2 separate regions of the Homo sapiens genome follow, and region 2 is linked to region 1. The links come from fine-mapping of genetic effects on gene expression. A gene starts in region 1. The other region holds a variant in brackets. All regions are shown on one strand. Distances are between the middles of the regions. Region 1 holds the start of CAPN10-DT (CAPN10 divergent transcript). Region 2 has its middle 17 kb from the start of GPR35.

Evidence for each region. PIP is the estimated chance that this variant, and not a neighbour inherited with it, causes the effect. A credible set is the group of variants that fine-mapping cannot tell apart.
Region 2: its variant is the best candidate, but not a certain one, in a credible set for the expression of CAPN10-DT in esophagus mucosa (GTEx, PIP 0.79).

What each region holds. Positions count from the first base shown.
Region 1 is chr2:240,584,194-240,589,562 of GRCh38, reverse strand. CAPN10-DT (CAPN10 divergent transcript) reads left to right here and starts at 3,247. Exons shown (of 1, transcript NR_103792.1): 1 at 3,247-5,369. It overlaps CAPN10 (calpain 10), which reads right to left and starts at 2,829. Exons shown (of 12, transcript NM_023083.4): 1 at 2,511-2,829; 2 at 89-220. The coding sequence starts at 2,651. RefSeq lists a silencer at 2,563-2,792 and enhancers at 1,992-2,818, 2,757-3,051, 3,103-3,282, 4,273-4,642, 5,013-5,082.
Region 2 is chr2:240,605,435-240,610,803 of GRCh38, reverse strand. It overlaps a transcript of GPR35 not described here. Among named protein-coding and RNA genes, the nearest start is that of GPR35, 17 kb to the left of the region's middle. The variant A/G (reference allele first, on the strand shown) is at 2,334.

The DNA of each region.
Region 1 (5,369 bases):
CTTTCGCAAGGCCTCCTGGTACTCAGCAGGCTGGAGAAACGCAAAAAGAAACCGGCTCCAGGACAAACACAGGGAAGGGGCCCCGCACCTGGTCCAGGAGGTGCCTGCTCTTCTGCAGCGCGGCGCAGGCACACAGGAACCAGCAATCCCCCAGCAGCCCCTGCTTCACCTGCCCTTCCCGTGGGTCATCTGGAAACAGCCGGGGTGTGGCACAAATCTCCTGAGATACAGAAAGTTGTCCAGAGTTAGATCATGCCTGCTGTGGAACCCTTCAAACTAAGAACCCAAGGCTCTAGATGACAGGAGTTGGGGTGGAGCTTTTCCGATCATCAGTGTTACCCAAAAAGGGACAGGAAGGTGGTTTCCTGCAGCGGGTGTCCTTCAGCTCCTGGCTTCAAATGCCTCTGTCCAGCTTAATTCTGGGGTGCCTTCCTTCCTTACTGGAAAAATCCCAAACTCTAGCAAGCTCCTTCTCAAAACAGCTAAATGTTGGCTTCGAAAAGTTTCACTTTTTACTCATGCTGGTAAATCTCAAATGTGTCCTCCATCCTGCTGGAAATCTGTTTCTCTAGCAGGCTCCATTTCCCACACCCCCTAACTATCATATACCTTCCCCTTTCTCCCCGTCTACTCAAAACATCCACACTGCCCTTGCCCACCCCTCTGAGCTTCGACCTTGCCTCCTGCTTCTGGACCTGACCCTCTCTCCTGCCCTCAGAGCCTGGGCTCCTCTCACAACTCCTTCCCTTCCAGCTCCCCGGGCAGAATCCCACCCCCATGTTCTTTAAGACATTATCTCTCAGCACCATAGTCTCCTTCAGGCTTCTCTTCATTACAGCTCTTGAAAGAGCTGCCATGCCCACTACCTGCTTCCCATTCACTCTCCACACAGGCTCCTCTAGCTTCTGAGCCAATCATGGCCCCTAAACTGCCTCGATCAATGTCGCTGTCACCTCTATGTTATCAAACCCACTGGGCTTCTCTTGGTCCCAACTCTCTTCCCCAACTACTCAGCAGCATTCACAACAGCAGAACAGCCATCTGCTGCCCCTGAGGTGGTCCCCACTCAGCTTCTGTGAGGCCGCATGCTCCCCGGGTGTCCTCTCCCTCACTGCCTGCTGCTTCTCAAGTCTATCTGTCAGGGCACCTGCCTGACCCCAAGAAATGTTAGGGTTCCTCAAGGCTCAGCCCCAAGGCCCCCTTCTTCTTTACTGATACTCCCCCGAGACACTCTCCCAGGCTGTGGACTGTAAACCATCTAATATGCTCCGCCTCCCAGAAGAATGCCTCTAGCCTATCCCTGCTCCGTATCCACCTGCCTCCAGGACAGATCCACCTGCCTCCAGGACAGCTCCACCTGAAGACGTGAGAGCAAAGCCCAACTCTAGGTCACCCCCAGGCTCTGTCCCAGGACCACCATCCACCCACCTGTTCAGGCCAGAAACCCAGAAGGCATGTTGATCCCTCCACTATCCTCACCCTCTATTTCAATCAGTCACTATGGCCTCTCGATCCCCCCTGCAAGGTACGTCTCAAACCAATCTACTCCAAACCCACATCCTAACAGTCGTCAAGCTAATCTGAGCCCCTTCATCTTTCTCCAGGACCACTACAATGGACCCTTGCATTCTTGCCCCGACAACCCACTTCCCACCCAGCAGCAAGAGTGAGCTTGTAAAAACACACATCCAAGAGAACCACTCCTCTACCAAAACCCTCTAGTGGCCTCCAGCTGCACCTAAAATCAATCTTTTAACAAAATAAAACCCAAATTCCAATGACAAGGCTCTACATGGTCTGACCCTTGCCTCCTCCCAGGCCCTTCAGTGTTGTCCAAGGAAACCAGGTGGCCTGTCAAAGCCATCTCAGTCACGAGAGCCCAGAAGTTCCAGCTCTGTTCGAAGACTGGCGGCCATCAGTTGTCTCCGCTAAGACCGCATCCACTTAGGGCAAGGTTGCTCCCTGGGCAGTCTTATTCAGCAGATAAACCATTTCTAAAAATATGAACACAGCACTCGGCCAGGGCATCCCTTGGAGGTGCCATTTCTAGGTGTTACAACTGGAAAGGCAGGTGCACAAAATCCAAAACTGAAATTCTATCACGCTTTGCTTTGTGGGCTCGGCCTAGCCACTTCAGAGGGGCACGAGCGGCCCTCTCTGCGGGAGGAGCAGACACAAACGCTCTTCAGGGCGAAAGCAAACAGGTGGGGCGGGGTTTGGGGCTCTGTTAAAACGCCTCTCGCAGCGCTCTGAGCCTCCTGGATTGGAGCTCTCGCAGGCGGAGGCCACGACCTAGTTTAGCGTCCTTAGGGTAGCGCCGAGTCCTGCTCGTTCTGGGCGGGGGTATGAAGGAGGTACGAAAAGAGGGGGCCGGGCGCCCACTTCTGAGGAGAACAACGGCGGACCCTGCGTTCGGAGCTACCCTGGCCGCCCACCCCGCCCCGCTCCCTGCGAGGAGCGGAGATCTCAGAAACCAGAAACGGCGCCCACCGCACCCCACACGGCCCCACCTGGGGCCGCCTCCACGTGATGTCCTCGCGGAACTGGGCCAGCGGCGTAGACAAGTCGCAGAAGAGCGAGGAGTCCGCGGCGGGGAAGGCGGCGTCCCGGAACAGCTCCCTCGCCGGCGTCGCGCCCCGGCCCGCCCGCATCCTCGGCTCCGCGGGCTCCCATCTGCAGCCGGTTGCCTCGGGGTCGCAGCCCCGGAGAGAAGGCGAGTCAGCCGCCGCCGCCTCCGGCCCGCCCCGCCCGTTCCCCGCCCGGCCCAGCCCTCCAAGCCCGAGGGCCCCGCAGGTGCTGGACCAGGCCAGTACGCCGGCCCGCTAGTCTCCCATTGGTAACCAGGCGGCAGCCAACCGGGCGTGGGGTCTCGGGTCACGTGACAGGCGGCCCAATCGCACTCGCGCGACGGAAAGCGCCACGGACGTCGGAGGCCCAGGGGGCGGGGCTCCCGAGCTCCGCTCTTTCGTGGTCGGGCGGCGGACCGCACTGTATTTTTTCCTTCCGGGGGCGGCGGAGCCCAGGGCTATCCCGGCCTCCGCTCATACCCGGAGGGCCGGCAGGCGTTCAGTCCTCCAGCCGGTGAGGCTCGGGCCGGGGTGTCGGGACCGCCTGAACACGCGGGCTCTGGGAGCTTCAGGGACCAGGGAGCCACCTCGGCCGAGTTGCGTCGCAGACTACAGCTCCCAGCATGCGCCGCCGCTCCCAGCATGCACCTTCCTCCCGAAACGCGTCTCTGCTTCCGGCGCTCTGCTGCGGAGGCCGTGGCCGCGGGTAGTTGGGAGGAACCGAGATTTACGCTTGGTAAGGCAAGTTGCGAGCTGTCCGGCGCCGGTCGAGTTCCTGCCGCCGTCGTCGTCAGGCAGGGGAGAAGGGGGCCTCAACCCCTCTAGTGACAGCTGTTTGCTACCTAATAGGGCTTTTCATCCCACCGGGCCCCAGGGCCTTCGTTAGGAGCCCAGCAGGCTCAACTTCTTGCTGTGGTTCTGGAAAAGGGAGTGACCACCTGGCTCAACACCTCTCTCTGTGATGTGTTTGGGAGTTTTGGGAAATGAGACGGCTCCGAGGGAAGAGCTTGAGGGAGCGGCGTCGCACTCGTTCGACCTTCCCGGGCCTGGGCTTTGTTTCTAGGCATTTTAGGTTGAACGCTCTACATCTTAACTGGGGGCAGGGGAGGTGGCCAGAGCATCCCGCTGAGCGTTTTCCGATTCCCCAGATGGCCAGGCACCTGGTCCTGGTGGCTGGACAGTGACCCCGTGGACGCACATTTACAGCTATAGCCATTCAGTGCCGCGGGGAGGTGAGGATAGTGATCCTGGGACCTGCTCGAGGATTCACCCTTGCCCCAAGAACCTGTTCCATTCCCAGGAATGAAGGCGGTCAGGCAGGGGAGGAGAAGGGGGCCTCAACTCTTCTAGTGACAGCAGTTTGCCACCTAATAGAGCTTTTCAGATTTTGCCTCCTCAGGCCATTTTACTCAGCCTCGGACTATCAAGGATGGTCACATTGAAGCTGTTTTTCTGCAGTCAGGAGCGAAAAGTCCCGGCTGTTGAAGGAGAAACTGAATCTGGTTCAGGAGTCCCAGGTTCCTCCCTCTGAGAGGCCAGGTGGGGCCTGCGTGAGTAGCAGTTGTTCAGGTGGCAGGACACTGCTGTTTTCATCCCACCTGGCCCCAGGCCCCTGATTAGGGGCCCAGAGTGCTTATGTACTTGCCTCGGTCTGAGAAAGGGAGTGACTGCATAGCCCAACACCTGTGGGATGCCTCACTGCCCAGATGTTTCATCTCCGGGATGCTTCATTGCCCATTCAGCACCCTCTATGGTGCTGACTCTTCCGGAAGATGTTTCTGATTCCTTGCTAGGCTGGTGGTTGCACCATAGCTGAGAGGACTCAAGAAGAGCCTGGTCTCAGCTTCACCTAGGAGTCCCGGAGGAGTAAGAAACACGTATCTTTCCTGTTCTGGGCACATATGGGTGGGTAGCAGAGCTGAGGCTAGCTGAGGATCCCGACTCTCCTTTGGGAGCCTTTGTTGTGCCGCTCTCCCAGGCTGATCAGATCTGGAGAGCTAACAGCTTCCTGTGGCCACATCTGTGTCCAAGGCTGGGCCCATGCCTGTAGCCAGATTGCCAGGATCTGGAAGGGGCCAAGAGACAGCTGGTGCTGGGTAGGCAGCAGCCCTGTGTCAACCTGCCCCCACTATTACCCCATGCTGTGATTTGCATGTGGTCTGCCCCTGCCCAAAATGGTATTGAAATTTGAGCCTCAATGAGGCAGTGTTAGGAGGTGGTGCCTAGTAGGAGGAGTTTGGGTAATAGGGGTGGATCCCTCATGGATAGGTTAGTGTCCTTTGTGGAGGGGTGAGTTCCCATGAGAGCTGGTTAGAGAGTCAGCCTTCCTGCGGTTGTCTCTTGCTTCCTCTCTCGCCATATGGCCACGTAATCTCTTTGTGCATGCCTCTCCCCTTCTACTTGCTGCCTTGAGTTGAAGTAGCATGAGGCCCTCACCAGGTGCAGCTGCCCAATCTTGAAATTTCCACCAGAATTTTGAGCCAAATAAACCTGTTTTGCTTTTTTAAAAAAATAAATTCCCCCACCTTGGCTGGGCGCAGTGGCTCACGCCTGTAATCCCAGCACTTTGGGAGGCCGAGGCGGGCGGATCACGAGGTCAGATCGAGACCATCTTGGCTAACACGGTGAAACCCCATCTCTACTGAAAAAAAAAAAGAAACAAAAAAATTAGCCAGGTGTGGTGGCGGGCACCTGTAGTCCCAGCCCCTCACTCGGGAGGCTGATTGAGGCAGGAGAATGGTGTGAACCCGGGAGGCGGAGCTTGCAGTGAGCCCAGATCGCACCACTGCACTCCAGCCTGGG
Region 2 (5,369 bases), 21 kb before region 1:
AATTAGCCGGGCGTGGTGGCGGGCGCCTGTAGTCCCAGCTACTTGGGAGGCTGAGGCAGGAGAATCACTTGAACCAGGGAGGTGGAGGTTGCAGTGAGCCGAGATCATGCCACTGCACTCCAGCCTGGGTGACAGACCAAGACTGTCTCAAAAAAAGAAAAAAAAAAGTTAAAAACTTAGCCACGTGTGGTGCCACATGCCTGTAGTCCTAGCTACTTGGGAGGCTGAGATGGGAGGATTGCTTGAATCTAGGAGTTTGAGGCTGCAGTGAGCCCTGATGGTACCACTGTATTCCAGGCTGAGTGACAGGAGACTCTTCGTCTTAGGGGAAAAGAAAGCAAGAAATGACAATATGCTGTCTGCCTGATATGATATATACTTTAAATATAAACAAAAGTTAAAAGTAAAAGAATGAAAACAATGTAAAAGAATGGAAAAATTTATAAAATGCAAGCATTAATTATAAGAAAGCAGGAATAAAAATATTAACATCAAAGTAGACTTTAGTATAGGGAATATTGCAAAATAAAAAAAGGGACATTTCACGGACCAGCGTGTTGGCTCACGCCTGTAATCCCAGCACTTTGGGAGGCTGAGGTGGGCAGACCACAAGGTCAGGAGCTTGAGACCAGCCTGGCCAAGATGGTGAAACCCCGTCTCTACTAAAAATACAAAAATTAGCCAGGCGCAGTGGTGGGCACCTGTAATCCCAGCTACTCAGGAGGCTGAGGCAGGAGAATCACTTGAACCCAGGAGGCGGAGGTTGCAGTGAGCTGAGATTGCGCCACTGCACTCTAGCCTGGTTGACAGAGCGAGACTCCATCTCAAAAAAAAAAAAAGGATATTTCATATGAAAAAAGGGTCAATTCATCAAGAATATCTAACAATTCTAAATGTGTATGTACCTAATTACAAAGAATCCAAAAAATGAAGGAAGCTGATAGAACTGAAAGGATAAACAGACAAATTCATGATTGTGATCGGTTATTATGACACCCTCATCTCAGTAACTCACAGAACAAGTAAACCAAAAATTAGTAAGAATATGATAGCCCTGAGCAACACCAATCATCTTATCCAAACTGATGTTTATAGAACACTATGCCCAACAACAGCAGAATATATAATCTTTTCAGGTGCACATTGAACATTTTCCAAAATAGTCCATCTGCTAGGCCATAAATTAAGCCTCCATAAAATTAAAAAGATTTAAGTTATACAGAATATGTTCTCTAACTACAACAGAGCTTAATTAGAAATCAATAGCAACAAGGTATAAGACACACAAAGAATGCCCAAATATTTGAAAATTAAGCAACACATTTAAATAACTCAGGGATCAAAGAAGTAATCAAGGAGACATAAGAAAATACTTTGAACTAAGTGATGATAAAAATGCAACTTTCCGGTCTTTGTGAGATAAGGTTAGTGTGATGCTTAGAGGAAAATCTGTAGCTCTCAGTGTTCATGTTAGGAAAGAAGAAAGGTCTAAAATCATTACCTAAGATTCCACTTTGAGAATCTAGAAAACAACAACACCAAGAACAAATGAAACCCAAGTAAGCAGAAGAAATAAGAAAGAGTGAAAATTTGATGTACTAGCAGAAAAAAACGAAAATCAATAAAATGGAGATTGGTTATTTGAAAAGAAAAAAAAATTGAGAAAGCTCTGGCTAGATTGATCAAAGAAAAAAAATCCACAAATTACTAATATCAGGAATAAAAGATGAGACATCCCTTCAGACCCTACAGACATCAGAAGAATAATACAAGAATATTAGTAAGAACATCATGAAATTACATTTGACATCTTGATGAAATGGAAAAACATCTACTGAAAGTCACAACTTGCCAAAATTTACACAAGAAAAATAAAATGTAACAAGCTTATATCTATTAAAGTTGTTGAATTCATAATTTGAAGCCTTTCTACAAAGAAAATACCTCACCCAGATGGTGTTACTGATGAATTCCATCAAACACTTAAGAATAAAATAATACCAATCTTAACCACATCAGAAAAAAGGAGAAACACTGGCCAGCTCATTTTCTAAGTCAAGTTTTACCCTGTACCAAAACTGGACAAAGATATTACAAGAAAAGAAAACTACAGGCCAATATCATGCATAAACATAGACATAAAATCCTTAATAAAATATTAGCAAATCAAATCCAGCAATATATAAAACAAATAACACATCATGAAAAAGTATGCAAGAAATAAAAGGTTTATTTTAGCATTAGAACATCAATTAATAGAATAAATGGTAAAATGTATATATTTATCTCAATGGATGCAGAAAAATATTTGACAAAATGCAACATCCATGAAT[A/G]ATAGAAACTCTCGGCAAACTAGAAAGAGAAGAGAACTTCCTCAACGTGATAAAGATCACCTATAGATAAACTATAGGAAACTTCAAGCTGGGCAATGGTAAAAGACCAAACTTTCTCACTATACTCAGAAACAAACGAAGTGGCTCTCACATTTCTATTAAAAACGGTATTGGAGGTCCCAGCCAGAGGAAATAAGGCAAGGGAAAAAAGCAGATAGAAAAGGAAGAAGTAAAATTACCTATGGTCACATGTGACATAATCATGCATGTAGAAAATTCAGCTTGGCACAGTAGCTCAGGCCTGTAATCCCAACATGTGGGGAGGCTGAAGTGAGAAGATCGCTTGAAGATAGGAGTTCAAGACCAGCCCGAGCAACATAGCAAGACCCAATCTCTACAAAACATATAAAAATTAGCCAGGCATGATGGTGCACACCTGTAGTCCTGGCTACTTGGGAAGCTGAGGTGGGAGGATCACTTGAGCCCAGGAGTTTGAGACTACAGTGAGTTAAGATTGCATCACTGTACTCCAGCCTGGGCAACAGAGTGAGCCCCTGTCTCAATTTAAAAACAAAAAAGAGAAGAAGAAGAAGAAAGAAGAAAGAAGAGGAGGAGGAGGAGGAGGAAGAGAAGGAGGAGAAAGAAGAAAAAGAAAATCCTAAGGCAGAAGAAAAAGAAGAGGAGGAAGGCGGGGAGTCGGGAGAAAAAGAAAATCCTAAGGCATTTACCAGAAAAGAACAAAAGAAGCAAAAAACACTATGAACTAATAAATGCATTATCAAGGTTACAGGATACAAGATTAATATACCAAAAAATGCACTTCTATATACTAGCAAAAAACAATTGGAAAATAAAACTAAAGATACAATACCATTTACAAGCATTGGAAAACAAAGTACCTAGGCACAAGTGGGAAACGTATGCTTGAAGTTACAAAATATTGCTGGGAGAAATTAAAGAAGATCCAAATAAATGGACAGGGTTCAGCACAGTGGCCCCAGCCTATAATCCCAGCACTCCGGGAGGCCAAGGTGGGTGGATTGTTGGAGTCCAGGCGTTTGAGACTAGCCTGGGCAACATAGCGAAACCCTGTTTCTACTAAAAAACAAAAATGCAAAAAATTAGCCAGGTGTGGTGATCTGTGCTTGTAGTCCCAGCTACTCGGGAGGCTAAGGTGGGAGAATCACCTGAGCCCAGGAGGTTGAGGCTGCAGTGAGCTGAAATCCTGCCACTGGACTTCAGCCTGGACAAACAGAGTGAGATCCTGTCTCAAAAAAAAAAAAAATTTTTAAAAAATTAAAAATAAGTAAATGGATGGGTATACCACGTTCATAGATTGAAATATGTCAGTCCTCCTCATAGTCATCTATGTGATCAATCCAATCAAGCATTAAGCACCATGCCCCAATGGTTTTGCTTCCTGGGTATATGTCAACACTAGCCTATTCTCCTCTCCATCACCTCCCACCTAACCCAGGACACCACCTTAATGTCTGCAACAACTTTTTAGTTGGTCCTCTACTTCCAATTCATCCTCGAGACTTCAGCCAGAGAAAGATTTCAAACATATGTATGTTAGGCCCTGCTTTAAACTATGTAGTGGCTCCCAATTGCCCAGGAGATAAGACTCAGGCTCCTTAAACAACACTTAAGGCCCCTGCTTACATCTCCAGCCTCAGCTCTTGCCATATTCTCCAAGCCCACTCCCCGCACTGCAGGCACAGAGAGCTTCTTTCAATTCCCTGAGGGTGCCCAGCCCCTTTCCTGCCCTTGGCTGACCCTCAGCTGGTCAAGGAATACCCCCCCTGCCACTCTCACCTGTTCTTCTATGAACCCCCTGTCTGAGTCAATGGATTACCTTTGTGCAGACGGTCCTCCCTAATGGATCATGCATGCCATGGGGGCAGGGGTGAAGGATGTCACGGCCGCATCCACAGCTATCAGCAGTGTGCCTGCCACCCCACACATGTGCTTAGGAGGCCTCAGGATGGAGGGACAGTGGGCAGCAAGATGGTGGAAAGTGATGCGTCCACGCTTTTGATGTCCTCAGAGGGCTTGGAGAAGGAGCAATGAGCCCATGTCAGCTGCAACACAGAGACAGGCACACAATGCCACAGTGCCCGATGTCACGTCCATCCAGGCCCCAGCCCAAGCCTGGCTGCTCCTCCCCTGGCAGATTCATAAAAGGACTGGGTGTCCCAGGCAGCTAAGATGGGCCCAGCCTGAGCCTTGACCTGGGTAAGGGACACTGCATATGCCCGACTAAACCTACTAAACCTGGTGCCATGTTCCCTGGGATCCCTGAGTGAGTGTTGTGGTCCCAGCCCAGATCTGAGGCAGTGCTGTCTATGTGGACACTGGCTATACCTGCTGGGGACTAGAGAGGAATGGCCGGGTTTGGGGGGCAGCACTAACCAGATGGCCTGCAAGCTATGGCCAGAGCCCTGCAGCCATGGTCTGAGCTCCCCAGGATGCTACAGAGAGCCGAGAGCTCCGGAGACTCCCAGGTCAGCCTGCCTGCCAAAGCCTTTCCTCCAAAGCAGAAAAGACCCTTCCCCTGATGAAGCAGCCATGTGCAGGGCTTCACGTTGGGATCAAAAGGCCCCAAATTATCCCCAGGAATAAAATGATTCTTCCACTAGTTTCAAAAGGCAGCAAAACTAGCTTAAGTCTGGCAAAAATTAGGTGAAAACAAACAAACAAAAAAAGCAAAACCAAATGAAGACTCCAAGGGACAGCGAGCAAGGCGCAACCATGAAGAAAGCACGAGCCCAAAGTCCAGGTCTGAACACCTTGGCCCCAGCCTGGCCGGCCGCATCCTGTGTCCTGCCCGGGCAGCCCTGCCCCGACCAGCCCTCTCCCTGACTACCGCTCTCAGGACACAGGATCTCGACACTCACCCCAGAAGCTCTGCTGCCCCCAAGGCTGGCCCAAGCCTGGAGGACTGTGAAAGAGAAGACGGCAGTATCAGGACCGGGTGGGACACGGCTCCCACCAAGGAGTCACCAACTGCTGTGCCTGGAGCTGGAAGTGACT